Linked DNA regions of Homo sapiens. The protein of the gene in region 1 interacts with the protein of each later gene in a pairwise test. Each region holds a gene or a part of one and is shown in the gene's direction. Other genes may lie near its edges.

The links.
Region 2: the proteins of OCIAD1 (region 1) and MMD interact in binary tests that used the Homo sapiens proteins (3 or more experiments, as listed by UniProt).
Region 3: the proteins of OCIAD1 (region 1) and SLC30A3 interact in binary tests that used the Homo sapiens proteins (3 or more experiments, as listed by UniProt).
Region 4: the proteins of OCIAD1 (region 1) and FXYD6 interact in binary tests that used the Homo sapiens proteins (3 or more experiments, as listed by UniProt).

The regions. Positions count from the first base shown.
Region 1 is NC_000004.12:48,826,641-48,834,101, forward strand, and holds the start of OCIAD1 (OCIA domain-containing protein 1), read left to right. Parts: upstream 1-4,447; 5' UTR 4,448-4,461; coding exon of another isoform or gene 4,462-4,501; 5' UTR 4,502-4,609; exon of another isoform or gene 4,610-4,881; coding exon of another isoform or gene 4,882-4,891; intron 4,892-5,979; coding exon of another isoform or gene 5,980-5,984; coding exon 5,985-6,042; intron 6,043-6,760; coding exon 6,761-6,841; intron 6,842-7,461. UniProt on the Homo sapiens protein: Maintains stem cell potency. Increases STAT3 phosphorylation and controls ERK phosphorylation. May act as a scaffold, increasing STAT3 recruitment onto endosomes. Involved in integrin-mediated cancer cell adhesion and colony formation in ovarian cancer.
Region 2 is NC_000017.11:55,397,822-55,404,845, reverse strand, and holds part of MMD (monocyte to macrophage differentiation factor), read left to right. Parts: intron 1-298; coding exon of another isoform or gene 299-395; exon of another isoform or gene 396-532; intron 533-977; coding exon 978-1,079; intron 1,080-3,307; coding exon 3,308-3,377; intron 3,378-7,024. UniProt on the Homo sapiens protein: Involved in the dynamics of lysosomal membranes associated with microglial activation following brain lesion.
Region 3 is NC_000002.12:27,253,170-27,260,057, reverse strand, and holds the end of SLC30A3 (probable proton-coupled zinc antiporter SLC30A3), read left to right. Parts: intron 1-1,123; coding exon 1,124-1,305; intron 1,306-1,727; coding exon of another isoform or gene 1,728-1,750; coding exon 1,751-1,897; intron 1,898-1,999; coding exon 2,000-2,153; intron 2,154-2,705; coding exon 2,706-2,904; intron 2,905-3,164; coding exon 3,165-3,270; intron 3,271-3,537; coding exon 3,538-3,672; intron 3,673-4,597; coding exon 4,598-4,746; coding exon of another isoform or gene 4,747-4,972; 3' UTR 4,973-6,374; downstream 6,375-6,888. UniProt on the Homo sapiens protein: Probable proton-coupled zinc ion antiporter mediating the import of zinc from cytoplasm into synaptic vesicles and participating to cellular zinc ion homeostasis in the brain.
Region 4 is NC_000011.10:117,873,649-117,880,672, reverse strand, and holds the start of FXYD6 (FXYD domain-containing ion transport regulator 6 precursor), read left to right. Parts: upstream 1-4,014; 5' UTR 4,015-4,081; intron 4,082-7,024. UniProt on the Homo sapiens protein: Associates with and regulates the activity of the sodium/potassium-transporting ATPase (NKA) which catalyzes the hydrolysis of ATP coupled with the exchange of Na(+) and K(+) ions across the plasma membrane.

The DNA.
Region 1 (7,461 bases):
TTACACACTTACATATTTCAAAATATCATGTTGTACCCCATAAATATGTACAATTATTATGTCAATTAAAAATCATAAAAGCAAAAACCCAAAACAAAAAATAACCTTCATCCATTTTTATTTTTTCCTCCAGCTACCACTCTATCTTGCTTTCTCTAAACAGCTAAACTTCCAGAAAGAGTAATGTACACTTTTCCTCACATTATCTCCAATCACTCTTTTCTCAACCCATTGTAATCTAGATTTTAATAAAACTACACTTGCAAAAGTTATAAATAACCTTTTTATTGCTGCATGTAATGGATAGTTCTCCATCCTTACCAGCATTTGATATAATTGACCATTTCTTCCTTCTTAGAAGATTCTTTTCCTTTGGCTTCTATGACACTACATTTTGAATAATAAATATGTGTTAAACTAGATAGTCTGGTGAACTAATAAAACACAAGTTCTGCTCTAATGGAACATAAATAGAAATATGCTGAATAATAATTTATTGAATAATGATTGCTTGAATAATCGCTGAATAATTATCAATTATGGAAGTTCAAGCGTTCATTTGAAAATAAATCTTTTATTGACACTGAAATGAAGTAGAAGTTCACTACATTGATTTCATTTATATACATTAATGAGTATAAATTATCCCTTTATTATTAATTTTTTTAAGTGATGTCTAATAAGTGGAAATTTCTTATGGTACATTTCATTAGATCTTAACTCAATGGAGGTATCATGAAGACTGTTGATTTAATTTAATCCAGGTGGATCGATTTCTGGTGATCTCACCATTCCAGATTAGAACACATTAGTCTGAGTTGGCTAATAAATCCTACAGCCCATCTCTAGCAAATGTGTATCGACTTCCCGCAAGTCTTTGGATCTTGCCCAATTTATGTTTGAATTCTTTGATTGTTGCATTACCCAAATTACCAAAAGACTCAATAACCTCTAAATGCCAGCACAAATGCAAAGTGACAGTTTACTTGAATGTTTTAGAATCCTATATGTTCCCACAGAAGGAGCTCATAGTCTTTTATCAACAGAAACTCAATTTATTGATTAATTGCTGAGAAATTAGGGGGCAACAGAAAATAGACTTATCAATCTACCATGTGCTATTGCAGGCACGTGGCGTGGGACTGGCGGGTAGCTCCACCTGCAGCCCCGGCATGGGATCCACTAGGTGAAGCCAGCTGGGCTCCAGAGTTGGGTGGGGACTTGGAGAACTTTTATGTCTAGCTGGAGGATTGTGTATGCACCAATCAGCACTCTGTGTCTAGCTCGGGGTTTGTAGATGCACCAATCAGCACTCTGTATCTAGCTACTCTGGTGGGGACTTGGAGAACTTTTATGTCTCACTAGAGGATTGTAAATGCACCAATCAGCACTCTTTGTCTACCTAAAGGTTTGTAAATGCACCAATCAGTGCTCTGTGTCTGGCTAATCTAGTGGGGACTTGGAGAACTTTTATGTCTAGGGAAAGGTTTGTAAATGCACCAATCAGCACCCTATGTCTAGCTCAAGGTTTGTAAATGCACCAATCAGTGCTCTGTGTCTACCTAATCTAGTGGGGACTTGGAGAACTTTTGTGTCTAGCTAAAGGATTGTAAATGCACCAATCAGCACTCTGTGTCTAGCTCATGGATTGTAAATGCACCAATCAGCACCCTGTCAAAATTGACCAATCAGCTCTCTGTACAATGGACCAATCAACTCTCTGTACAATGGACCAATCAGCAGGATGTGTGTGGGGCCAGATAAGGGAATAAAAGCAGGCCTCTTGAGCCAGCAGCGGCAACCCACTCAGGTCCCCTTCCACACTGTGGAAGCTTTGTTCTTTTGCTCTTTGCAATAAATCTTGCTGCTGCTCACTCTTTGGGTCTGCACCACCTTTATGAGCTGTAACACTCACTGTGAAGGTCTGCAACTTCACTCCTGAGGCCAGTGAGACCATGAACCCACCTGGAGGGATTAACAACTCCAGACGGGAGGAATGAACAACTCCAGATGCACCGCCTTAAGAGCTGTAACACTCACTGCGAAGGTCTGCAGCTTCACTCCTGAAGCCAGCAAGACCACGAACCCACCAGAAGGAATAAACTCCGAGCATGTCCGAACATCAGAAGGAACAAAGTCTGGACACACCATCTTTAAGAACTGTAACGCTCACCGTGAGGGTCCGCAGCTTCATTCTTGAAGTCAGTGAGACCAAGAACCCACCAATTTAGGACACACTATGTGTTAGGCCTGGCTCAGTAAGTATAAAGAATATGATAAAACTGGATTCTGGAATCTTACAATCTAGTCAGGAAGCAAAGAAAAAGACTTTGCTTTAAAGTTGGTGCAGTGGCTCATGCCTATAACCCCAGCACTTCGGGAGGCCAAAGTGGGCAGATCACTTGAGGCCAGGAATTGGAGACCAGGCTGGTAAAGTAGTGAAACTCTGTCTCTTCTACAAATAAAAAAATTAGCTGGGCGTGGTGGTGCACACCTGTGGTCCCAGCTACTCAGGAGGCTGAGGCACAAGAATTGCTTGAATCTGGGAGGCGAAGGTTGCAGTGAGCCGAGATGGCACCACTGTACTACGGTCTAGACAATAGAGCAAGGCCCTGTCCTAAAAAAAAAAACAACAAAAAACTTTGCTTTAACATAAAGCTCACCACCTAGAATGTCTTCTAATTTTTTTATTTTTGTTTCTTCTAGAATGTCTTTTAATTTTCTTATTTTTGTTTTTTCTCCTATAAAAATGCATTCAACAAATTCATTTAAGAAATATTTGTTGGCTTCATATGATCATGTGCCAATCACTGATGCTAGGCAAATACGGCTCCTACTGTCATAGACCTTTTTAGTGAAGAGAGACAATACACAAACAAATCATTGTTTTAGACCATAACAAATACTATGAAAACAATAAGCAAGGTAACATGGAGAGTGACTGGGGTGCCATGTTAATTGGGTGGTCAAGGAATGCCTCTCTGATGTGGTGACATCAACTGAAGTCTCAGACAAAAAGCCACGTTGAACATCTGGAAGAACAGTGGTCTAGAAGAGGGAACAGCAATTGCACAAGCCCTGGGCCCAGAAGTAAATTAGCTTGTCCCAGGAACAAAATGAGTATTAGTTACTAATACTGATTATCTCAGGGATTTATTTGGTTCTATAAAGACTTACAAGCCAACATCTCTGTCCTAAAGGAGCTCTGTAACAGAGACAGACGTAAGTAAAAAAGATCACTATTCAGTGCAAAAGTACATTGCAGTGACAGCAGTATGGACAAGCTAAGGACTAAGAAGGAAGAGTGATTACTTCTCTGGGGTGTATTTCAGGGAAGGCATCACAAAGGTGGTGATGTAAAAGCAGAATTTTGAAATATCGTTAGAATTGACAAAGCAGGGAGTAGAGTTGTACTGGGGAAACAGTGCACAGAGAACACTGAGGGCAAAGACCTCCAGGCTGTTTCTTGTTAGTGAACCCTGAAATAGAAGAAAGTGACGCTCAAAAGGCACAGGCACCACCAGGCCATGATGGGCCTTATATTCGGTGCATGACTGGAGCTATCAAAAGACTCCAAGGAAGGAAACACAGCGTTGGATTCGTTTCACGTGACTGTCTCCCTTAAGTATGTCTTCGGGAGAATAAATGTTAAATGATAAAGTGGCAAAGGGGCTCAGAAAGAGATGAGAAACCTGAGAGGCTTTGAGGGGTTGACAAATAGTAGGACTGGATTTGCCCACTGTTTAGTCACTAATAACTTGCAGTACATGGCACTAATAAATACTTCAGGAAGGAATGTATGAAAATGAGTAAAATGCTGATTGGCTGGGTGTGGCAGCACCATGTCTGATGTGTAGAAGTCGTGAGCCCCCTCATTAATAGACAGTGATGTGTTGTTTTAATTCTAACAACCCTATATGTAATTCCACTTTTCAGGTGAGAAAAACCGTAGCCTCAGAGAGATCACGGTACCCTGCCAGAGGTTGTAGAACTTGTTGGAAACTTGGATCAAGAGGGTGTGACAAATAACCAGGTATGCATGCTTAAAAATTACTTTCTACTACTTAGCCTACAGGCTCAAAGAATGAAATTATCTCATAAAAGAGATAATTTATAAAGTCGCTCTCAAAAGAGGGACAACAGAGGGTTCCGGAACGTTCCCGCCAGCCGCCACGAGAAGACCAGAGAGGTGCATCACAACAGCCCAAAGTCAAGCCTACTCCCAACCCCCTTCCCCGCCATCCAGGGAAGGGGCGGGGCAGGGTTCTTGGTCCGCCGCTGTCGCCTGCGCAGTCGCAGTGCGGCTCGTGGCCGCAGCTGCCTGAAAGGGCAAAGGGACGAGTATACGCATGCGTCTATTCCTAGGCTGCTGGCTCTCAGACCCGCAGTGAGGTCTGACGTCATTTCCTGCCGTAAGTATACAGTGCCTCCGGGTCGCGGTCATTTTGAGCCCCTGTCTGGATGACTTCTTGCGGCTGTTCTACCCCTCCCCCTCCCCGCGGTACCTTGCACTTTTCTCCCTCCCTGCCCCCTCTCGAGTCCACCCTCCGGGCCTTCTGCCCCTGATCGCTTGGTTTTCCTTGCAGTCGCCTGCTGCTGTCGTCGGGAGGTGGGTGAGGTGACGCAAACAGCCCCGTTGTTGCCCTCCGCGTATCCCCTCACCACCTTTGCGGCCATCCACGACTTTCGCACCTTCCGCCATTTTCCTGCCTGTGAGGGTGGACAGATCGCGCTCGGGTCTCGGCCTCCTGAGTGCCGGTGACTGCGGGAGGCGACGGAGTGCTTCTGGGGGTGTGAGCTGGGGAAGTTCGTGGTCACGGATGCGTGTGGGGTTGCTGCTCAGTCTGTAACGGCAGGTGGGAGACGGACACTGGGTGGAGGATGGAGTGCGGTAATCAGCGGTTGTAGGCCGCTTAGGCTTTAATCCAGCGTTGTTTTGTGTAAAGAACTTAAAATGGTATTGTCTTAAGCGCCGTGTCAGCCCTGACAGTCTTCCTGGTGTTTCTAGGAAGGATGCCGTTATGGGAAATAAGAGGGTTTCATTTTTTCTCATACGGTTGTAGGGTAAAGGTAGTTTATTCAGCAGGCTCCATCCATCCATGAATTCAGCTGACCTTTTTTATTTCTTTTCTCTAATTAAGGGGTTGGCATGTAGTAGGCCTTCATGGCTTATTGACTGAATGAATTATGGAAGGGCTCAGTTGCTGTCCTCATTGTGTATGCCATTTCCTGTTTCCATGCAAATTGTTTTTAAAATGAGAATAATCATGATCCCACGTAAACGTTCTGTAAAATACGGTTACTTGATCTGTTGGTCTGAGTCCCAATATATGAGTTTTTAAAAAAAGAACCAAATAAAAAATGTATATTCTTGGAATTTTATGCATTTTTTTCTTATATTCTTGGGGTGGAAGGAAATTTGGAGATACAGAATTTGCTGTTAGTTTTACCTCACAGGGAGAAGGATATGTCGTCTTTGTTATTCCATAATTTTGGAGTGCTCCTTTGTGGGAGAGGTTGAATGTTTCTGATGATTATTTCATTTTTTAATATGGAAGCTCAGAAATGACTTGAAATTTTTTTTCTCTTCTATTTTGGGGAATTATCCTAATCATTGGGCATAGATTCGAGAAACGACCAAAACATAGGATGTGAAAGAACCCACTTCCAGGAGGAAAAAATATGTCTGTTATTTTATTGATATCTTGATAGTAAAAAAAATTATAAACTTATAAAACGCATATGCTTTTTCAATTAAGGGACTTAACCTGAATAGTGAGTTCCAAATTAATCAGTAGGTCTGTTACTTTTTCATCTAGCTATTTACATGTGGAGTACGTAAGATATAGTAGTGTTTAATAAATATTTGTTGATTGATTGCTGTGTAGACTAGTAGTTTTACTATATCATACGTCTTGATTTACTTTGACCTATCTAGTGATAGTTTCTAATACTTAATATGTAATGTTTTTGATACAGGAAAGATGAATGGGAGGGCTGATTTTCGAGAGCCGAATGCAGAGGTTCCAAGACCAATTCCCCGTAACTATCTATTAAGTATTTATAATTAGAAGCACTTCCTATGTAAAGGAATTTTCACTGCCTTGAGTAACAGTGGCAGGTGGGCTGGCTTCATGGGCATGTGCAGACAGCGCCCCATACTTGGTTTCATGTTCTAGTCTTGTTATCTTGAAATTCATAATCATTTGGATAAGGAGTCCCACGTTTTTATTTTGCACTGGGCCCAGCACATTAGGTAGCCAGTCCTGACTAGCAGATAGTAGCATTAATTCTATTTGAAGTCAAAGTTTGTTGAAAGTGTATAAGTGGCCTGGCTCGGTGGCTCATGCCTGTAATCCCAGCACTTTGGGAGGCTGAGATGGGTGGAACACCTGAGGTCAGGAGTTCGAGACTAGCCTGGCTAACATGGTGAAACCCCGTATCTACTAAAATACAAAAAATTAGCCTGGCGTGGTGATGGGTGCCTGTAATCCCAGCTACTCGGAAGGCTGAGGCAGGAGAATCGCTTGAACCCCGGGAGGTGGAGGTTGCAGTGAGCCGAGATCGCGCCATTGCACTCCAGCCTGGGCAACAAGAGTGAAACACTGTCTCAAAAAACAAAAAAAGTGCATAAGCCAGTTGTTTTATTATTTGAGTTTAAAAAATGGGTGCCTCTTGTTAATGTTTAGGCTAAGATAATTTTTCAGACCTAGTTTTATTATGGATAATTTAATGTTTTCTGATTTTCCCTGGTAAAAAGACATAGGGCCTGATTACATTCCAACAGAGGAAGAAAGGAGAGTCTTCGCAGAATGCAATGATGAAAGCTTCTGGTTCAGATGTGAGTTCAATTTTCTAATTAATATAATTTGATCCAAAATTTGTACCTGAAATTTTGACTTGAATTTGAACCTGAAATTATAATAACTCCGTATAGAACAAATTGGCAAACTTTTTGCATAGTGTGGTTGTTGTTAAAAGAGATTAAGGAGATAAAGGAATTGCACACATTTTAAAGTAATTATTTCCAGATTTTTAACAAAACCATGAGGTAATTTTGTTGATAATAGTAATAGTTAGCATTTACTGTGTGTACATAGATTATATAAAAACAACCCAATAAGGTTGATAACTATTATTACCCTCACTTTACAGGTGAAGGAATTGAGGTTTAGAGATGTTAAATGGCAACACTTAGTGTTACACAGGTGATAAATTACGATGTTTGGAGTTGAAAACAGGTCTGTCTGAAACAGATTTTACTCTTAATGCTTTTAACCATTATATAATAGCAGATTAGTTCCCATTTTATCATTGTGAAATGTTGTTATACTACCAGCTCTTGATTTCTGATTAAAGAAATATATATATATTTGTGTATATATATATATCAAGATTGTATTTTTTAAATACAGAGATTGTTGGAAGCAGTATACAAAATATACTCTCACTATTTAACAA
Region 2 (7,024 bases), on another chromosome or scaffold:
AAGTGATCTGCCTGCCTTGGCCTCCCAAAGTTCTGGGATTACAGGTGTGAGCCACTGTTCCTGAACTTCTCATGTATTCTTAATATGAAATTAGTACAAATGAATTTGCAGCATTTTAAAATTCAAACCTCACAACAGTCCATGGTTAAATTCTACCAAAATGTCTTCCATAATACATGTTAGGAATAATTCTTCTCATACTCTCTCTTGGCAGAGAGACTGATAATGGAGACACACTTGGTTTGTGTATTAGGTATCCACTGTGGGTATCTGATCCTGCGTCAAAATTTTGTTCCAGGTTCTTCTCATTAAGGTTTGTAAGTAATCTGCTCCCAAATACATGGTCAGAAATTAAAGGGCAAGCAGTTTTGACCTCATTCTGCCTAATAGGGTAAGTTAGGCGTCATAAGAGTGCTGGGACTCCCTTCAACTTGTCTGCTTTTAGCTGGTTCTATTTTTAAACCATGTTGAAACTAATTCTTTTTTTTTTTTAGGTGGAGTCTTGCTCTGTCGCCCAGACTGGAGTGCAGTGGTGCAATCTCAGCTCACTGCAACCTCTGCCTCCCGGGCTCAAGCAATTCTCCTGCCTCAGCCTCCCGAGCAACTTGGATTACAGGCACATGCCACCACACCTGGCTAATTTTTGTATTTTTAGTAGAGATGGGGTTTCACCATGTTGGCCAGGCTGATCTTGAACTCCTGACCTCAAGTGATCCGTCTGCCTCGGCCTCCCAAAGTGCTGGGATTACAGATGTGAGCCACCACTCCCGGCCTAATTCTGAGTCTTAAAGGTCGACTGACAAATTTGTTTTTGAGTTGCTTAATTTTACCTAAATTGCCCAAATGCCTGCTTGATGTGTTGAGTGTGTTTTCTTCCTGCTCTTATCCTAAGACTTTCTCAGTTTTCAATGACACAGGTTCTATGAATTCCCTTCATTTATCACTTCTGTTCTTTGTTGTCACGTTTACATTTTTAGGTTAAATCTTCGTGAACTTGGACCCCTGGCATCTCATATGCGTTGGTTTATCTGGCTCATGGCAGCTGGAGGAACCATTTATGTATTTCTCTACCATGAAAAGTAAGAGAAAATAATTTACATTTGATAGTTTTAAAATTGACTGCCTAAATATTATCTGCACTGCAATACAATTTACTTTTATTTGTACTTCAAAACAGTAGAAATACATATATAGAATATGTTATTTTTAATAAATCTTCAAAACCATTTGGTATTCATTATTAGTGGAAAGATTGCTGTGGAAAAACAAGAGTGGTACAGGTTTGGTATAATGTAGTTGAGGGGACATGGTAACCAGCCCCTTTGGAGTCCATCAGACTTCATTTCTATAGCATGAGGCAAATTGGCCTTATTCTCTGTGATTCAGTCATCACGTGAGAAAACCAGCCACTTGTCAAGGTGTCTATGAAGATTGGAGAGAATAGATATTAAGTGCTCAGTACAATATACCTAAATAAGGGCCTAGAGGGTATTCCAAAAAGGGTATCTTGAGAAAAAGGATGTTGGGAAGGACATTGGAACTCTTAATATCCTATCCCTAGGGCACAGCTTTTTAGCCAGTTATTCATAGCTGATAGTCCTAATTATTGAGCCATATAAAAACAAAAGCTAATTGAAATTTAGTATCTTTGCTCTAGAGGAGACCTTCAAGGTCCCCTATTCCAACTTCATGATTAAAAAGTCAGAACATTTAGGATATGCATCAAATTAGTGACTCATCTGGAAATTAGGACCCAAACATCCAAGTTCTGATTCCATTGCTCTTTTTATTACCCTGTATGTTTGAATTTGAGAAACACACAACCAGGAAATCTTTGTCATTGGGTTTATTTACAGTTCATTAAATTCTGTATCTATTGTGCTTGGCAGAATGGCTCTCAGAATTGAACATAATTTGTGTTTATCAGAAAATACTAAATTGTTTTCCCCTTTCAGAAGAAGAAAATGGTAGTTTTCACTAACTTCTTTTTGTCTCTGAAATTCACTTAAATACCTTTTTGACCATAATTAGCAATGCTGAGTAGTGTTATATATTATAGCATATTTAAGTCCAAGGGAATGGTTTGCTTCTTGGACTCAAATCTCTTATTTATATCCTTGGATAAAATAGGAAGTCAAGAAAGGCAACTATCTTTTCTCCTTTTCCCGGCCTTCTGGTGTAAACAAAACCCATAAACCCATTCTTCCCCTATCTGATTATTTCATGGTAGGCTTTGAGTATAAAACACGATGAATGAGGTATGAGTCACCCTTGGCCATTCAGTTTGGCAGACATTAGGGAGTACCTAAATTGTATCAGGTACTGTTCTAGGATTTACAGATCAAAACATAATTAATCTTGGTTCCTGCCTTTGAGGAGCTTATCGTCTGGTTTGATTAGGCTGAAATGTAATTTGAATTTCAATACAATGTATTTCTTAGGGTTTTTAGATCTTTTGTAGTCTAACGTGATGAGCCTTAAAATTACAGTTTGTGCAGGTGCAAAATAAAGAGACAAACAAAATTACACGTCCTTTCCTTAGGGCTTGCTGTTCCTTTTTGCTGATAAACTAGGCTCCAGGCTGCATCTCCATTCATCTTCAGAATTTCACTTCTAGCTCTGGATTGGAATGGTAATGAAAGCAGACACTCTAGGATCAGAAGAGGAAATATTTTACAAGGTGGAGTGGGTTAAACGATAACTACTTTTGGCAGAAAACATTTTCTTTTTTTTTTCTTTTCTTTTTTTTTTTTTTTTTGAGACTGAGTCTCGCTCTGTCACCCAGACTGGATGGAGTGCAGTGGTGCGATCTCGGCTCACTGCAAGCCCCGCCTCCCGGGTTCACGCCATTCGGGTTCACGCCATTCTCCTGCCTCATCTCCCCGAGTAGCTGGGACTACAGGCGCTCGCCACGCCCAGCTAATTTTTTGTATTTTTAGTAGGGACGGGTTTCACCGTGTTAATCAGGATGGTCTCGATCTCCTGACCTCGTGATCCGCCCGCCTCGGCTTCCCAAAGTGCTGGGATTACAGGCATGAGCCACCGTGCCCGGCCGGCAGAAAACATTTTCTAGGTGGCATGTGGGATTTGATGCCTTTTCAACCCTGAGAGAAATGCTAGTTCCTTGTTACTCAGCTACTGTGTTTTAGTTAGAGGCCTAGTGGTTGCCTACTGAGAAATAAAGTTTTATTTGAATAGTTAAGAGTTTACATTTCTTTCTCAAAAGTAAAAAGGAAAGGCTGGTATGTAAATTGTTAGGTGTTATAGAAATTTATAAGTTAAATTAACTGCATTTTTGTTCCTGCAGATATAAGGTGGTTGAACTCTTTTTCTATCTCACAATGGGATTCTCTCCAGCCTTGGTGGTGACATCAATGGTAAGACATGGCTTCAGAATTTTAGTTATTTTCTTTTAAGCTGCTGGAACTTAACATGATTATGGATATGATATGTAGCTTTTCTTTATAAAGTTATGTCCATTAAATAGAGGCTCAAAAGAAAAAGAACTTATAAATAATGAAGTGTTTAGCTTGGCATGGTGGCATGTGCCTGTGGTCCCAGCTACATGGGAGGCTGAGGCAGGAGGATTGCTTGAGCCCAGGAGGTTGAGGCTGTGGTGAGCTGTGTTCATGCCCTACAGCCTGAGGAACAGAGCGAGACCCTGTCTCAAAAAAATAATAAAAATAATGAAGTGTGCCAGCAACTCGTAAGCTTGCACTAGGTACCGTGTACAGTTTGGGAAAGCTATAAATTCAGGTATGTTTCTGTCTTTATGGTACTTTCCTGAATCAGAACCAGAATAGGTTCAGAGAGGTATTTTTCAAATCCCTTTACTCTTACTTTTCCTTTCCCTTGCTTTTAAGTCGTAAGTCAAGCACTTTTTTTGTTTGTTTGTTCTGTTTTCTAAGGCAAGCACTTTTTTTTTTCTTTTACTTTGCTTGAAAATATCTTTTGGGGATTTTCGTGGGTAAAGTGTAACATTACCTGTAATAGGCAGTTGCATGTATATATTTGAATTCCCTTTCAAATTGAATTACTGTTGAGAAGTCTGTGTGTGTCTGTCTTTTTGAAATGAAAATATATTATTACGACTTCATGGTTCCATCCACCTGGTTACCAGCCCTTTAGCTTATATATTGCAGTATCTTAGGCTCTAGGCACTATATTAACTAAGGAGGTCCCAAGGTGTTTCGTTTGAACCCTTCTGAGCCTACATTGTTCAGAAGAACTGTACTTAGGATTTCACTCCTAATCTCATAGGCACATTGTAAGAACCTTTTTTTTTTTTTCTTTTTTTTGAGACAAAGTCTTGCTCTGTTGCCCAGCTGGAGTGCAGTAGAGCGATCTTGGCTCACTGCAACCTCCGCCTCCTGAGTTCAAGTGATTCTCCCACCTCAGCCTCCTAAGTAGCTGAGATTACAGATGCGGGCTGCAACCCTTGGCTAATTTTTTGTATTTTTAGTAGAGATGGGGTTTCACCAAGTTGGCTAGTCTGTTCTTGAACTCCTGAGCTCAGGTGATCCACCTGCCTCGGCCTCCCAAAGTGCTGAGATTATATGCGTAAGCCATCACGCCTGGCTGTAAGAACATAATTCTGTGATAGTTTTTTTCCTGGTCACAAAAACACCTATAAAAGGTTTAAAAGTTTCAAATCTGGTTCTGTTTTTTCAGGGGATGTCTTCATGAGAATATAACAAAATATATTTCTTTGAGATACGAGGTTTATGATGGCTTTAATAATTACCTAGCACCCAAAATACATATAGATGGTAAAAGCAACAGGGAATGGTAAGGAGGAGGAGTTAAAGGACAGAAATGAGAAAATCAGCCTTGAAGGCCATATAGTTAGAAGGCATTTCAGGACACCCCAAGCAATATAAGCAAGGTTTGTGCAGCTTAATAGAGTAGAATTTCAAGCAAATTCCCTCTGGGTATCATAAGAGCAGGTTTATCCAGTAATTTTACTAGCCTAAATTTGAAATTGACATTTCCATAAGTGGTACAATAGCAGGTGACTAATGTTTGTGATAATCAAGCAGGATGATCCCCCACACTGCCTTCATAGAACTTAGAGTCAAGCAGGCAAATGCAGTTCCTATTAAAGAAAAAGAGATCATGAAATTTGATAAAATATTTGATGGGGGAAAGTTCAGGCTGCTATGCGAACATGACAGAAGTACCAGAGGAAGTGATATTTCAGCTGATTTGGAAAAACATGTAGAAGCTGAGAGATGGTAGGGGTGAGGCAAGTGTTACAGGTAGAGAATACAGCATGAAGGAAGCCCAGAGAAGGGGGAAGCACCAGCATCTTTGGAGAAATGAAAATAGCTCATTGTTTGTAACATAAAATACATGTACCAGCTTGAGTTATGTACATATGCATGGTGGGGGCAGGTATGCAGGTAGCACAAGTCTTGTAATAAAGCTGGAGAGCTAGACAAGAGTCCAGATCACAAAGGACCTCAAAAGCCACTAACACAGTAACAGAATGAATGAAAATGCGAATCTTTGGTTCTGGCCAGAATCATGGGTCTCAGACTTACCCTTCTGCCATAAAGAACTGTAAAACTAGAAAAAGAATAAAGGCAACTGTTTTTTTGGCTCTGAACCCAAACAGTACAGGACTGTGATCCTTGAAGGAAGAGAAACCAAGAAAATGAGCTTTGAATTCACCCCAGTAGTTTCCCTGGAGACACTTTCCAAACAGCAACAAAAGGAGGTAAAGCCCAGAGAACAGCAGCCTGGGTGGAGGAAACAGAAATTACAGTTCAGGTTACTGACATGGCTGCAGTTTGTGGGGCAGGGTATGGAAGAGGAGGAAGCCGCTCAGGGAGGATGCTTCAGAAATCCATGAAGCAGTTTCCGTGAGTCGTTGTCCAGATATCAAGCTGAATGTTGTACGGGCCAAAACTCTGCAAGCTCCAGTTGCAAATAACTCTTAGAAGGCTGGAAGATAAATGGAAATTCCGGACAGTTCCCAGTGCTGAAAGACATTGAAGTTCCAACCAAGCAGAGTTCAGAGATGGTGCTGGACATCCCAGGCACTCAGCTGACCCTGCCAAGGCCACAGCTTAGGAGTAGAGCTACTCTATCCCTAGAGGGAGGGCTACTCTAGAACTGCCATAACAAGGCCCAGACAAACCTTGAAAGGATAAAATTGATCCTCCAGTAAATAAACCGCCTAACAGAACAAAACTCAACAATTTTTAAAGGAATACAACAGAATCTTTACTGTAACAACTTAGCATGTACCATAAGTAAATATTATCAGAAATAAATCAATAATAATGTAATAAAATAAATAATAAATATATAATAAATATTACCAGATGGGCAAGAAACTGGAAAGTGACACATACCTAAGGGAAAACAGATCAATAGACACAGATCAAAAGACGGGAGAGATACTGAGATTCACACACAGGGAGTTTAAAACAGATGAGGAATCTCAGAAAATACCTGGAGACTATGAAGAAGAATCCACATGGAGATTCTAGATCCGAAAACTGTGATGTCTTAAGAAAAAAAAATTATTGGAGGGATTTAATAACAGATTGGATATTGCAGAAGCAAAGTTCAGTGAACTTGAAGCCAGGTCTGTAGAAACTATACAAACTGAAGCATGAGAGAAAAGAGTGATTTAAAAATGAACAAAAGAAGAAAGAAATTGGGGCAGTTTTTTGTTTTGGGTTTTCTGTTTTACAGTTTTTCTTTTCTTTTTTTTTTTTTTTTTTGAAGAAATAATAGTTACAACTTTTCCAAATTTGATGAAAAATATCAACCTAGAGATCCACAAAGCACGAGGAGGCCTGAGCAGTATAAACACAAAGAAAACTACACTAAGACACATTAAAGTCAAATTACTAAAAAACAAAGGCAAAGACAAGACCTTAAAATCAGCCAGAGAGAGAAAAAAGAGCAAGGAGAGAAGATGACCACTGACATTTTATCAGAATTCATGGGAGCAGGAATACAATGTAATGGCACATTTAAAATGCTGAAAGGGTCCGGGTGCTGTGGCTCA
Region 3 (6,888 bases), on another chromosome or scaffold:
CACCTTCCCTTCATACTGCCTTGGCGTGCCTGGCATAGCATTCACCTGTCTTTATCAAAATCCTTCCCATCCTTCAAGGCCCTTCTCATGTTACCTCTTACAGCTGTTTCCCTGATTTCCTCGTTATAATTAGTCTGGCCCTCCATCCTCAGAACCCTGATAGCACTCTAACTGCCCTAATGACAGTGGCCACCTTCGCTCTATATCATTGTGTAGGTACATGCTTGCCCTGTTCACCAAAAGCTCTCAGAGATCAGTAGGAATCCTGCTCATTTTGGGGTGCCTAGCATAAGAAATTGGTTGGGGTCTAGTCTCAGCTCTAGCAACTAACTGGGTTGGCCTCCATGTGTCCCCCAACTCTGTGAGCCTCATGCCTCTAATTTATTTAATAAAATGTTAGATGAGAGCCGGGTGCGGTGGCTCACACCTATAATCCCAGCAACTCAGTAGGCTGAGGTAGGAGGATCGCTTGAGGCCAGGAACTCAAGTGTGCAGTGAGCTCTGATCACACCACTGCACTCCAGCCTGGGCAACAGAGCAAGACCCCATCTCTTTTTTTTTTTTTTGAGACAGTCTCTCACTCTGTTGCCAGGCTGGAGTGCAGTGGCACGATCTCGGCTCACTGCAACCTCCAACTCCCTGGTTCAAGTGATTATCCTGCCTCAGCCTCCCAAGTAGCTGGGATTACAGGCACGTGCCACCACACCCAGCTAATTTTTGCATTTTTAGTAGAGATGGGGTTTCACCATGTTGGCCAGGATGGTCTCGATCTCCTGACCTTGTGATCTGCCTGCCTTGGCCTCCCAAAGTGCTGGGATTACAGGTGTGAGCCACCACTCCCGGCCAACCCCATCTCTTAAAAAAGTTAGACTAGACCGTCTGTAAGGTGCTTTCCAGCTGTGAAATTCTATGGCTCTGTGTATGGAAGGAAAAGGGAGGCTGGGCTCTGACCTGTTCATTTAGCCCCGGTCTCTCATGTGGCCCTCTGCCGATGCAGCTCCCAGATACGACCAGGCCTGGGGAAGGAGATGGTCTGATGAGGCCAGCACTGGGGACTAAGGACGTGGAGTGAGCAGGCCAGCCTGTGGGCCAGGCCCAGGTTGAACCATGTTGCTTGCCTCAGTCTCTTCACAGAGCCCTCAGAGCCCCTCCCTGAGGAGTCCAAACCTGTGGAGATGCCCTTCCACCACTGCCACAGGGACCCCCTTCCGCCGCCGGGCCTTACCCCTGAGAGGCTGCATGCACGGAGGCAGCTATATGCTGCCTGTGCCGTTTGCTTTGTCTTCATGGCTGGGGAGGTGGTCGGTAAGTTGGGGAGCAGCCCTTAAACCCCATTCTCCAAATACCTGCCCAAGCCACTCTCCACCCAGAGTCCCAGGAATGTTCCTGGGTGCAGATGCAGAGATGGGGATGGCTGGGATAGGGGAGCTGGGTGCCCAGGACTCAGGAAGTAGGAGGGATAAGGGACAGCAACAAAGGGAATTCCAGCCGAGGTCCGGGGCCAGTAGGTCAGGGCTGACTTCTTTTAAAAACCCTATTTTCTTGTTATTAAAATAAATCATTGTAGAAAATAAAATACAGATGAATGAAAAAAATAACATAACAGTAGTTAATTATACCTGTAGTCCCATCACCTGAGAAAACCCCAAATCACATTTTTGGTGTATATCCCCCAATTTATTTTCCATGCCTATACACACTACATGATATTTTCTAAATGGAAGCAGACTCCATCATTTCACCCTGGCAGGCGGGTATCTGGCACACAGCCTGGCCATCATGACCGATGCAGCCCACTTGCTGGCGGATGTGGGCAGCATGATGGGCAGCCTCTTCTCCCTCTGGCTCTCCACCCGTCCAGCCACCCGCACCATGACCTTTGGCTGGCACCGTTCAGGTAAGGCCCCTGCATGGCCCAGTGACTCTCCAATCTTGCCAGAGGGCACCCGTCAGGGTCCCAAGCAGGTCTCTGACAGCTTGTCTCCCCCCCCACCCGCAGAGACTCTGGGGGCTTTGGCCTCTGTGGTCTCCCTCTGGATGGTCACTGGCATCCTCCTGTACCTGGCCTTCGTCCGCCTGCTGCACAGCGACTACCACATCGAGGGGGGTGCCATGCTGCTGACCGCCAGCATCGCAGTCTGTGCCAACCTGTTGTACGTCCCAGTATGGAGCAGGCACCTTGTGGGGCCCAGGGCGAGGGGTCTTCCTCCAGGATGGGAGAGCTGGCTCTCTCCTCCCCACCAGACACACAGACACGCACACACAGCTCTCCATGGGCTGCCCTGCGTGTGCCTGAGAAGGGTCTGGGATAGAGACCTAAAATTCAGTCAGCAGATCTCTGTCAAGGGCCTGCCATGGGCCAGCCACTCTGATGAGGGCTTTCATCAACATGATTGCATTTAAACCTCACAGCCACCCCATGAGGTAGGTAGCATTACCCCTAGTTTACCATTAATGCAGTCAATCCCAACAGGTGACTTGCCCAAGTCACATATCTATTTAAGTAACAGGGCCAGCTTCCGAATCCACATGTGTGGCACCAAGTCTGGTATTCTTTCCCCCAGGCTGCATTGTTTATCTCTCTTGCAAAATGCTGTTTTCTTCCAGGGGCTGGGAAAGGGCTACTGGGGAGGTGAGACATGGAGATGGGGGTATAGGAGGCCAGGAGCAGGGCCCTAGGCTGAGGTGCTCTGCTTACCCCTCAGAATGGCCTTTGTGCTGCACCAGGCTGGGCCCCCCCACAGCCACGGGTCTAGGGGAGCAGAGTATGCACCGCTGGAGGAGGGGCCTGAAGAGCCCCTGCCCCTGGGGAACACCAGCGTCCGGGCGGCATTTGTGCACGTGCTGGGGGACCTCCTGCAGAGCTTTGGGGTACTGGCTGCCTCCATCCTCATCTACTTCAAGGTACCATCATTGGAGACCTGCCCCAGCCTTCCTCCCCACAACCACATCCCAGCCCACTCCTTCCCAGGTCCCAAAGCTTCCTTCCTCCTCCCTCCAGCTCCTCCCTCCCACCTCCCAGGACTCTCCCAGACATGAGTCATGTTCCCTGTCCCCTCTTCAGGGTTTTGAGGGGCCTCTCAGGTCATGTTTGTTCAAGATACCCCTAGATCTTCCTCTGAAAGGTCCCTGGTTGTTGGGCTTAGGGGTCTCTTTCTCTGCAGCCTCAATACAAGGCAGCCGACCCCATCAGCACCTTCCTCTTCTCCATCTGTGCCCTTGGATCCACCGCTCCCACCCTCCGAGACGTTCTTCGAATCCTCATGGAAGGTGAGTCGGGCACCACAGCTCCCCATCCCTGTGGCCCTCTCTGACTTTACTCTCGCAGTGGGCCATCACTTTTTTCTTTGAAGATAGTACGGGAAGAAGGCTTGGCTCATGGGGTCTGCTGCTGGAACAAGGATTTGGGCATAGGGTGAATTGTAGGGGTCAAAAGGAGAGTGCATACAGGATAGGGGAGGTGGAATCCAGTGGTGGGGGTGCTGCTTCTGGGCAGGAGTAGCCCTAGCAGTAAGGCATGACTGGTGCTGGTTGCAGGTACCCCCCGCAATGTGGGGTTCGAACCTGTGCGGGATACGCTGTTGTCGGTGCCAGGAGTCCGGGCAACCCATGAGCTGCACCTGTGGGCCCTTACGCTCACTTACCATGTTGCCTCTGCACACCTGGCCATCGGTGAGTCACACTGGCCCCAGCTAGTTACTACCTGGAACATACCCCACCCCAAACATGGGACCATAGCTTGAGTTACTGGAATTGTTTCAGTCTTTTTTGATCTGTCTCTGTTTCTCTGTGTCTCTCTCTCTCACATAGACACATACACACACACACACATGCACGTGCGCTCGTGCATGTTGGAGACAAGGAGTCTCCATCCACTGGATGCAGTGTTCTGGGGGCAGTTTCACCCTCTTTGAAGTAGCACAGGGAACCAACAACCCTTTAAAAGATCATTAGTACCTACAGGTCTAGTGATGGGGCACAGTTAGGTAAATTACAGCACCTCCACCCTGAGGTATCACATAACTGTTAAAAATGATGCTTGTGAAGACTGTACAGCAACTATGAAAAATGTTTATGGTATAATGCTGAGAAAAAAGCTGAATATAAAATTGCATCTACATTATGATTCAACTATTAAAAATATATATGGTGAGTCATGAGCTGACAAAGGATTTTTGAGTTTCTTCCAGATGCAAGAAGCAATCAGAGTCATGCAATTTGTATGCCAAAAATATTATAATTTGTGGGATATTTGATGGAAACTCTAGAGGGACAATGAGACAGATATTTAACAACTGGATTGTCCTGGGAAATCGGGTGGTATGGCTGCTGAAATGTTGAGCTGTATGTTGACACTTAATGACAGGAGAGAATAGGAGACTGGAAAGAGTTTAGTGTGTTAGCATGGTTGATTGGGGTGAGTCTCTCCAACATTTGATTTGACACTTTTATGCTGTTCATACAATACAGAAAGAAAAGCAGGCTTCCATTCACGCCTGGCTTTAATGCTGTGCAGCCCCTTTCCCTGTCCTTATCTCAGTCCCTGCCTGTTCTTTCTCCCCCGGGATGGATGCCGCCTCTTATCACTCTCCCACAGACTCCACCGCTGACCCTGAAGCCGTCCTGGCTGAAGCCTCATCCCGGCTCTACTCCCGGTTTGGATTCTCCAGCTGCACCCTGCAGGTCGAGCAGTATCAGCCGGAGATGGCCCAGTGCCTGCGCTGCCAGGAACCCCCCCAAGCCTGAGCCATGGCCCTGCCCTCACCCCACTGCCAGGCCGAGGCTCAGCCCCAGACTCTCAGCATCTGCTGCCCTGATCACAGAGACGGGACCGAGCCAGGTCCATACCCCTTCCTCTCTCCCTCCTACCACCTGCCAGTTTCCCCAGCCTCAGCCCCAGCCCCAGCCCCAGTGGGCAAGACCAAAGTGTGGCGGGGAGTGGGGTGGGAGTCAGGGGAATAGATGTGACTAGTTCAGGGGCGGGGACTCCCAGGCCTCAGTGTGGCAGGGTGTGTTGAAGGCCTGTGGTGCCATCTCCCCATGGTTCATGTGGAGCCACGAACATCCTTTCCCTGCAGTCCATTTGTCTGTGTGGCAGGCTGGCTGGCTGGGGGCATCTGCCTGTCTATGTGCTGTTGGTGTGCCTATGCCTGGGGGAGGTCAGTAGGGGCCCCCTCCCCACATGGCCCTCGCTCTGTCTATGCAGGGGCCCCAAAGCCCGCACTTTGTCCGTGTGTCTTAGCCCTGTGGTTTTGTCTGTGTGTGTGTGTGTGTGTGTGTGTGTGTGTGTGTGTGTGTTCTTGGTGCTGTGGCCTGTGTGTCTCTGTGCCTATGTGGCTGTGCTATGGTTTCTATGAGTCTGCTCCATCCATGTGTCTGTTTGGGGGTCTATCTCTCCATCCCTCTGTTGGTGCTGTGCCCTTGGCTATCCCTGAAAGAGGGAGGACTCCGCTGCAGCTCCACCAATAAACTTGTGTCTCACTGCATCTTTCAGCCTGTGTGCTGACTCCTCAGGAGGGGGAAGTCAAATAGGTCACTTGAGAACAACAGAATCCCTCCTGTCCCTTCCCAGCCTCTGGAGTGACCTCCCACAGACCTCCTGTCCCTTCCCAGCCCCTCCACCCTCAGATGGAGGGTAAAAGCCACCAGTCTCTTTACTCCCCTTCCCCTGGCTCACAGCATGCCTGGGTCCTTGGCTCAGGGACAGTCCCATGTGCCCTGGGCTTGGTTGCAGGAGAATGCTGGAAGGTAAGGAGCCAAGGAATCCCTGGGAGTCAGTCGTTCTCAGAGGTCCCTGCATGCCAGTGGGCCTCAGGCTGGCTGGAGGGAGGCTGGGTCCCTTTGAGGGAGAATGGCTAGACCATAGCACTGATGTGGGCTTGGTTCTCAGGCCATCTAAGGTGTCCAGCGGTAGGGACCCCTCAACCCTGATAGCAGCCAACCCTGAGTCCAGGTTTAGGCTGTGAACACCAAGGACCTCTTTTACACCTATTCCCCCTTTGTCTTAAGAACTGCATATTTTGACACATTAAGTCTTAAAATCAGGCTCATTAAGGGATTGTTGATTTTCTCTTTAAAAAAAATCAAACTCAAGCTGGACATAGTGGCCTGTGCCTGTAATCTCAGCCCTTTGGAGGCTGAGGCAGGAGGATTGTTTGAGCCCAGGAGTTCAAGACCAGCCTGGGCAACCTAGGGAAACCCCTGTCTCTACAAATAATTTAAAAATTAGCTGGGTGTGGTGGTGCATACCTGTAGTCCCAGCTATTCAGGAGGCTGAGGCAGGAGGATTGCCTGAGCCCAGGAGGTCAAGGCAGCAGTCAGCCATGATCATGCCACTGCACTTCAGCCTGGGCAACAGAGCAAGACCTTGTCTCAAAAAAAAAAAAAAATCAAACTCACTGGGTTTGGTGGCTCATGTCTGTCATCCCAGCACTTTGAGAGGCTGAGGCAGGAGGATCGCTTGAGGCCAGGAGTTCAAGACCAGCCTGGTCAACATAGTGACACCCTGTCTCTACAAAAAAAATTAAAAATAAAAATAAATTAGCTACGTGTGGTGGTGTATGTCTGTGGTTCCAGCTACTCAGGAGGCTGAGGTGGGAGGATCACTTGAGCCCAGGAGGTTGAGGCTGCAATGAACTATGATCATGCAACTGCACTCCAGCCTGAGCGACAGAGCAAGACTCCATCAAAAAAAAAAAAAAAGAAAAAAAAAGAAAAATCAGCTAGGCAAGATGGCTCACGCCTGTAATTCCAGCACTTTGGGAGGCTGAGGCAGGCAGATCACTTGACCCCAGGAGTTCAAGATCAGCCTGGGCAACATGGTGAAACCCTGTCTGTACAAGAAATACAAAAATTAGCTGGGCATGGTAGTGTGTACCTGTAGTCCCA
Region 4 (7,024 bases), on another chromosome or scaffold:
CAAGGATTGGAGTGATGAGGGTGATGGGGGGAAATAGGGCAGGGAATGGGTCACGAGATGAAGCAGGAGAGGCAGGTGGGTGTCAGGTTGTAAAGGCTGAATGTCGTGTTAAGAATTTTGACTTTAACTCGTAGAAAATACGGAGCCATTGAAGTTTTGAATCGCATTTGTATTGGGGAAGATAACTCTACCTAGAGGTAGGGGGACTGTGGCAGAGTCACCAGTGAGAATCTGATGCCAGAGACCTGACCTAGAACAGGAGTGGTGGGCAGGAAAGGAGGCACTGGGGGAGAGGTCTGAGCGTGGCATGTGTTCTGCAGGGTAACTGGATTGGGGGCAGTGCCATTCATGAATTCAAAGAAGACATGAGAGGGAACGGCTTCAAGCCGTGAGAGGATGGATAGGGAGTGGACTGGGAGGATGGATTGGGAGTGGGCGGTGCTGACTCCCTGGGATTACTTGCCTGGGTCTCCTGGGGAGAGGACCGGGCTGGATATTGTGGACTCATCAAGCCTAAGCGGGTGGTAAAACCCTGGTTGTGGATTTAGATTGTCTAGCAACTGCATAAGATGACCAAGGACTCAACACAGCTGCTTGAGGGAGAAGTTGGAGGAGTTTGACAAAGAAAGGTTGGAGAGAGAGGAAGGGACCCAGGATCAAGGAGTGGTTTGGAAGTGAGCAGAGCTGTTTCAGCCAAGGAGCTAGGAAACGATTCTGTCCTAGGGGTTGGGGGTTTGGCATTTGGCTGAGTGGGGAGGACACACATTCACACCTGTGCAAAGCCAAGTGGGTATGCATGGACACAAAGTAGCAGTCAGTGGGCAAGATCGGCTCCCTTCTGCAGCCCCACCCCAGGATGAAGTGGCACCCCACTAGAAGGGATGCCTGCTAGGAGGGGTGAGGGTCTCTTCTAAGACTCCTGGTCTCTCCCCTTTAACTTCCCCTTTAGGCCCTCCATGTCCGGTGTGACCAGGACACAGGAGGTCACTCTGTGACCTGTCCGTGGCTGTGTGACCAGGGCACTGACATGCGGAAGGGCTATTTTGCTGCAATACAAGGGGACCAGGGCAAGTCCTCTCCAGATGGGATTTTAGCTGCACATTTGTGAGTTACTTAGCCCAGAGCAAGCTTCAAAGCATAGAGCAGTCCCTGATGCTCCCAGCAGTTATGCTGTCCTCTCCAGCTCCAGGTCTTCCCATGGTTCCAGTTCTGGCGGGTGGGGAGTATTTCAGGAATGGTTTCCACCCTTTCTTACCCTACTTTCTCCATGGCTGCGCAGCCCTGCCCTGGATCTTTTTTTGTTCTTTGGGCTTGTAAAGAAGCAGGATTCTTTAGTGGGGATCAGGCTTATTTCTCAGCTTCATGTTAGTGCTGCCCCCACACAGCCCCCTGAACCCTGACTTGCAGGGTCCACCAGGAACATCCCAACCCAACCTCTCACCAATTCTTGCTCAGAACAGTTTTCATGATGCCCATCAGTGCTTCCCAGGATAAAAGCTGGAATCACCAGGAATTGTTGGGCCAGTCCCACCCTGGCTCCTTTCACACCATGCCCCTTCTGCCTCAGGGCCTTTGCACATACTGCTTCTGTTCCAGAGGCAGAATCATCTTCCCACCCTGACATCCCAATTCTTGGCTCCTTTACCTCATCTTCTTAACATCTCCTGACCTTTCTCAAATGCTATATCTTCAGGGCTCTGAACTGTGTTTTAATTACACGTTTATTCATGGGAACATTTGCTAAATCTCTATCTCACCCAGGGACCACATCTTTCCTCTCCACAGTATATCCTCAGATCTTGGCCCAGGTCTCAGTGAAGAGTAGCTCCTCCTGTCCATACGTGGTTGAAAGAATGGAACAGCTGGCGACCTCTTTTTATGAATGCCCACATTTTTCACAGGGGGTAGATGTGTTTATTTTCCTGCTAGAAGGGAGATGTGACTCACCCCAGAACAAGCTTGCGTGCTGCTTTGTAGCTGTAACACCCCAAATTCTTCCAGCAGTACCCTTGGATGGAACGTGATGAAGCACTATTTGAGAGTTAAGCCATGGCGGTTTCTCATGCACATTTAGTTCCTGTTATCCCTCTGCAGCCTGGGCTGGTCAGCATTAGGTAGGGGGACCTGGGAAGTCACTGGGCCAAACACTTCAGAACTCTCTGGCTGGAAATGGGGTTGAACCAGAAGGTGGCTTGGCTTTGGAGTTCTGAACTATCCTTTCCCAAATAGGCTTGCAAAGCCTGGGCTTGACGTGTCATCACTAGTAGGTGCTCTAAAAAGCACAGAGAGATGGCCAAAAGGCAGGATTCAAGGGCATTTGGAGGGATGAATGTACCTGCCTAAGGACATGGGCCTAGAAAGGGATGTGGTTTTAAATCTGCCACCTAGAATACATGAAAAGGGAAAACGACAGTTGGAATGCTGTCCTCAGTTTATAGAGGAAAAGACAGGAACGGCAAAGGGTTAGGCACGCAAATAGGCAAGATTTGAGTCTGGCTTTGGAGAAGGAGCTTTAGCATTCACAGGAACCCCAGGGAGTTCAGGACTGGGCCAGAGTGGCATCCATTCAGCCAGGTCCCATGATTAAGGGGCCAGAACTATCCCCTGAGGGGAGGCTTTTTGGGTGCTCTTTCTCAGTAGCTATTTATGGTTCCCCTACTGGTTCCAAAGTCTTCTTGAGTTCATGTATATTTCCTGCCTTGGGGTTTTGAGACCTGACCTTTTATTAAAATAATTAGATCATCTAGGGCAGAGCTGGAAGAGACCTCAGGATCATCTAGTCCATCTCCCTATTTTCCCAAATGAGAAAACAGGCCCAGAACTGAGGGCAGCAGAGGCAGGGCTAGGTTTCTTCCTAGCAGTACCCATCATCCCCGGCTTGGGGTTTGTAAGGAACTCTCCGTGGCCCTACCTAGGCTTGGACAATCACAGCCTTTCTCAGTAGCTCCTCCCTCCACCCGGCTCGGCCATACACACACCTTGACTGAGGCTGGACAGCCTCCATCTCAGCATGGCTCCTGGCTACTGACACTTGTGCCTGGCCTCTGCCCCTTCCTACAAGCTCTGCCCCTAATAGTAAGAGCCAATTTCTTGAGCACTCACTATGAGCTAAGCCTCCCATGGGGTCAGTCTCTAATCACCATTTTCCCACGTGAGGAAATAGACTCAGGAGCTGAGTGCAGAGATATGCTCCAAGTCGCGTCACAGGCAGGGTTGCCGAGCCAGGATTTATTTACATCTTCACATTCAAAGTTCGTCATCATGAATTTTGACTCTTGGGGACTGGGCTGAGGACGGGGTGGTACTGCTCCTGGCAGGGCCAGAGGTGGATGGGGCTTGAAAAGGGGGTTCAAGGCAGCAGATCTATGGTTCAGGTAAGGACCATCCCCCCAGCTCCCCACCTGGCTCTAGCTGAAAATGACAACTACAACTGGAGCTGGCTCCTGCGCCCACGACACAGCCATTCATGCTTTTGGTGCACATTCCCCTTAATTACCAAGGCTCCCAATTAACGTGGGCTGCTGTGTCTGGTGCTGGGTTATTTTCTCCTATTTTTCCGTTCCTCGGGGTTTACTATTGCAGAGAGACACCAGGTCTGTCATTGTGCCTGTCTTGCTCCCTTCCCACCCTAACCAGAGGGAAACCGAAAAGCAACAGCTGATGGCAAATCCGCTCCGGCGCTTGCACGCCTCCTCGGCGGCAGTCTCCTGTTGCTTCTCGGAGCTTGACTGCCCTTTGGAAAAATCTCTCCGCCCCTCGAGAGGAGAGAGGAGCAGAGGACGCGCGCGAGCACAGAGCGGGAGGACGGACAGGGAGAGGAGGAGAGGGGGTCTGCGCGCGGCCGCTACCCAGAAGCCAGCGGACGGCAGCACGGAGTGGGCTGTCCCCGAGCCCAGCCCCGAGCGAGCCCCCCCCCCGCCCCCGCAGGACGCGCCTCCCAGCCAGCCCGACTCCTAGGAGGAGGGGAGGCGGGAAAGCAGCTCAAGCCTCACCCACCGCCCTGCCCCCAGCCCCGCCACTCCCAGGCTCCTCGGGACTCGGCGGGTCCTCCTGGGAGTCTCGGAGGGGACCGGCTGTGCAGGTAGGCGGCTGGGGAGGTGGGCAAAGTTGGCTCCTTTTTCCGAGGAGGGGCGAGGCTCGGTGGGGACCGATCTCTGGAGCGCCGGGAGCGCCGGGTTTTGTGTGTTCAGTGGGTGTGTGCGGTCCTCCGCGGTCAGCTGCGCCGCGGTCCCCGCCTGGGCAGCGGGAAACCGGGCTGGGGATGTAAACAAGGAGATCGGCGTCGGAAGAGAGAGGAGCCTCTAGGGGAGGCAGGCTGTGGCGCTGGGGGTGACGCTGGTGGCTGGGAATTGCTCTCGGTGCTGCCTTGAGCTTGGGGTCAGGGTTTTCAGGAGAAGGGGAAAGGGCTGCGCCCACCCTTTATCCATGAGGAGTTTTCCCTTTGTTACTTGGAAGCTGTGGACACTTGGTGGAGCGTGGGGAATTACGGACGAGGGCGTGTGGCTGGGTGTGAGTGTGGACTTATGAGCGACACAAAATGGAACTTGCTGGTTTGGTGCTTGGGGAAGGTGGGGCTGGGCAGTGGGCACAGGATGGGGGCGCAGGGAAAGAAGGATTCTAGCGCTCGGGGATTCATGAGAGTGCATCATTTTTTCCCTCCTTCTTGTCTTATCCATCCAATCCTGTTTCCTTTCCGGGGGGCCCTGGGGTCCGCCATTGCCCCCTTTCCCCAGCAGGGCTGGCCCTGGCAGAGCCTCCCCTATTGTGTCTCCCGGGCTTCCGTGGAGAGTTGGGTGTGCAGCCTGGAGCTCCCAGCGCTGGCTTCTGGCTCTTACAAGTGGTGGCTGGTAGAGGAGGCACCCGAGGGTGGGAGCTGGGAGCAGCCTCGCTGGAAACATGGGTCTGCCGCGTCACCTGCTGCAAGCCTGCACGCTCGCGGGACCGTGGCTACTGGAGGCTTCTCCCCACCAGTGTGCTCTCTGCCACTACTTCCTTTGTCTCTGTGGCTTCGTGCTGTCTGGCTGGGCTAAGATTTCCAGCTTTGAAGATGGATCAGTGGGCATCTCAGGCCCTCTCTGAAAGGAGCCCCCTTTGGGGATCCAGCCACCCTCATATTATGGATGTGTATGTCTACGTCCGCAACTTAGCCTTTTGCACGTGACTTGCCTGGTCGTTGCCATGGAAACTCCTCCATTTCTCAGCCTCCCTCTTTCTCCTGCCCATTCCTCACCTCCATATCTCCTCCCCTCCCCCCAGTATGGTTGCCTAGATACTGGTTATCCCTGGCTAGGAGACCTAGATATCTGGCTCCTACACCCAATTGCAGTGGCCCCTTACTCACACCACCCACTTCACACACACTGCACATCACCAACACCACAAACACATACAGACATATACCACACTACGCAATCAACACACCCTCACACTCACACCACACATACATATACATCATACCTATACACACATACACACCAAACACACCGCATATATACCGCACCACCACACACCAGCTACAATGCTACACTGACACCCTACATGCGCACTGTGCATGCACACACACACACACAGTACATCTAAATAAGTCTCAGGCTGGGCTGAGGCAGGGGAGAGAGAGGGCAGTTTCCTTCCTTATCCAGCCACCTCCCTAGGGGTGTGGAGGGGAAGAGATGGAGGCTCAGGAAGCCCAGAAGGAAAACCCTAACATCTCCCTGGGAACCCTGCAGAGGAAGGTGGAGGGAAAGGCACTGCCAGATTCCCTCAAAAGAGGAGCCCCTTCCCTAAACCTGGAAGGGAAGGTTGGATAAAGAGTGGGCGCAGCCCTTTTCCCTCCTCCTCAAAGCCCCAGTCCGGAGCTCCAGGTGTTAACGAGAGCCATTCCCAGGTGCTGGGCTCCAGAAGCTGGGCACTGACCAGAATTTCAATCTCTCCACTGCCGCTGCTCTTTTCCCTGACCCAGAGAAAGCCTGAGGCTCTGGGAGTCATCCTCACCAGCAGAGGATCAGGCCAGCTCTGGGACCATCGGAGGCTCTGAGCCCTAACAAAGGAGAGAAGGAAAAGTGGTTACTGTCCCAGGAAAGCCAAGGAGGCCAGGCCAGGGAGGCAGGAAGGGGAGGGAAACCAGAAAGAGGGAAGGAGAGGGGCCACAGGAGTCAAGAAAGCGAAAGTTAGGGCTACCCGCCGTTGCCTGGGGTTCAGGCCACCCTCTCTTCCTGGCACGTTTTCCTGCTTCCCCCCTGGCTCCTCCAAACAGATCTGTGCATCTAGGAGAGGAAGCGGGTGTGCAAAGGGCTCTAGGCTTGCCAGGGTTCTCCCAAGACGTGTGGCTTCTATGGTTGACAGACGGTAGGCGCCTGGGGGAAGCGTTTCCTTCCTGGCTTCCATCGGATCTTCAGACTGACCTGAGGACCGATTTCATTCAATCATTCAAAGAACTGTTTTAAGTGTCTACTGTGTATTAATTGCTGGGGACATGAAGGTGAGGAGGGAGACACAATCCCTGACATCGGAATCCTAGGTTTCTCAGAGCCGGAAGAGGCCTTGAGGGAGCATCCAGTGGGAACACAGTGGGGGAAACTGAGGCTCAGCAGTCACGTGGCCAGTAGTCGCTGAGGCCTTCTAACTCCTCGGCCAGGATTTTGGCCTTCACACTGCCTGTCCTGCAACCCTTGCTTTCTTTTCTCAGTCACCATCAGAGATGGTGGGTTGATGGAAACCTATGGAGGGAGAGCCTTTGGTCGGCTGGTGACTGGGACGCCCTTCCAAAGTGAGGGTCCCTTAGTGGGCGGGTACAACCGAGGAGCCTGCTTCACTATGTTTTCTTGGAAGGCGAGGCTGGAAGCTGTGGCAAGGAGATGGGGGAGAAAGGGCAGTTTCCTAGACCCTGGAAATTTCCCGACAGCCTCGGGGGAGTCCACCCACCGAAATCTCCCCTAAATAAGAGCACCTCCTCTCTTCCTCCCAACCTTGTTGGACTTAGTCGGCCGCCATCTGGATGGCAGACTGTGCCAGGCAGCCCCCCAAT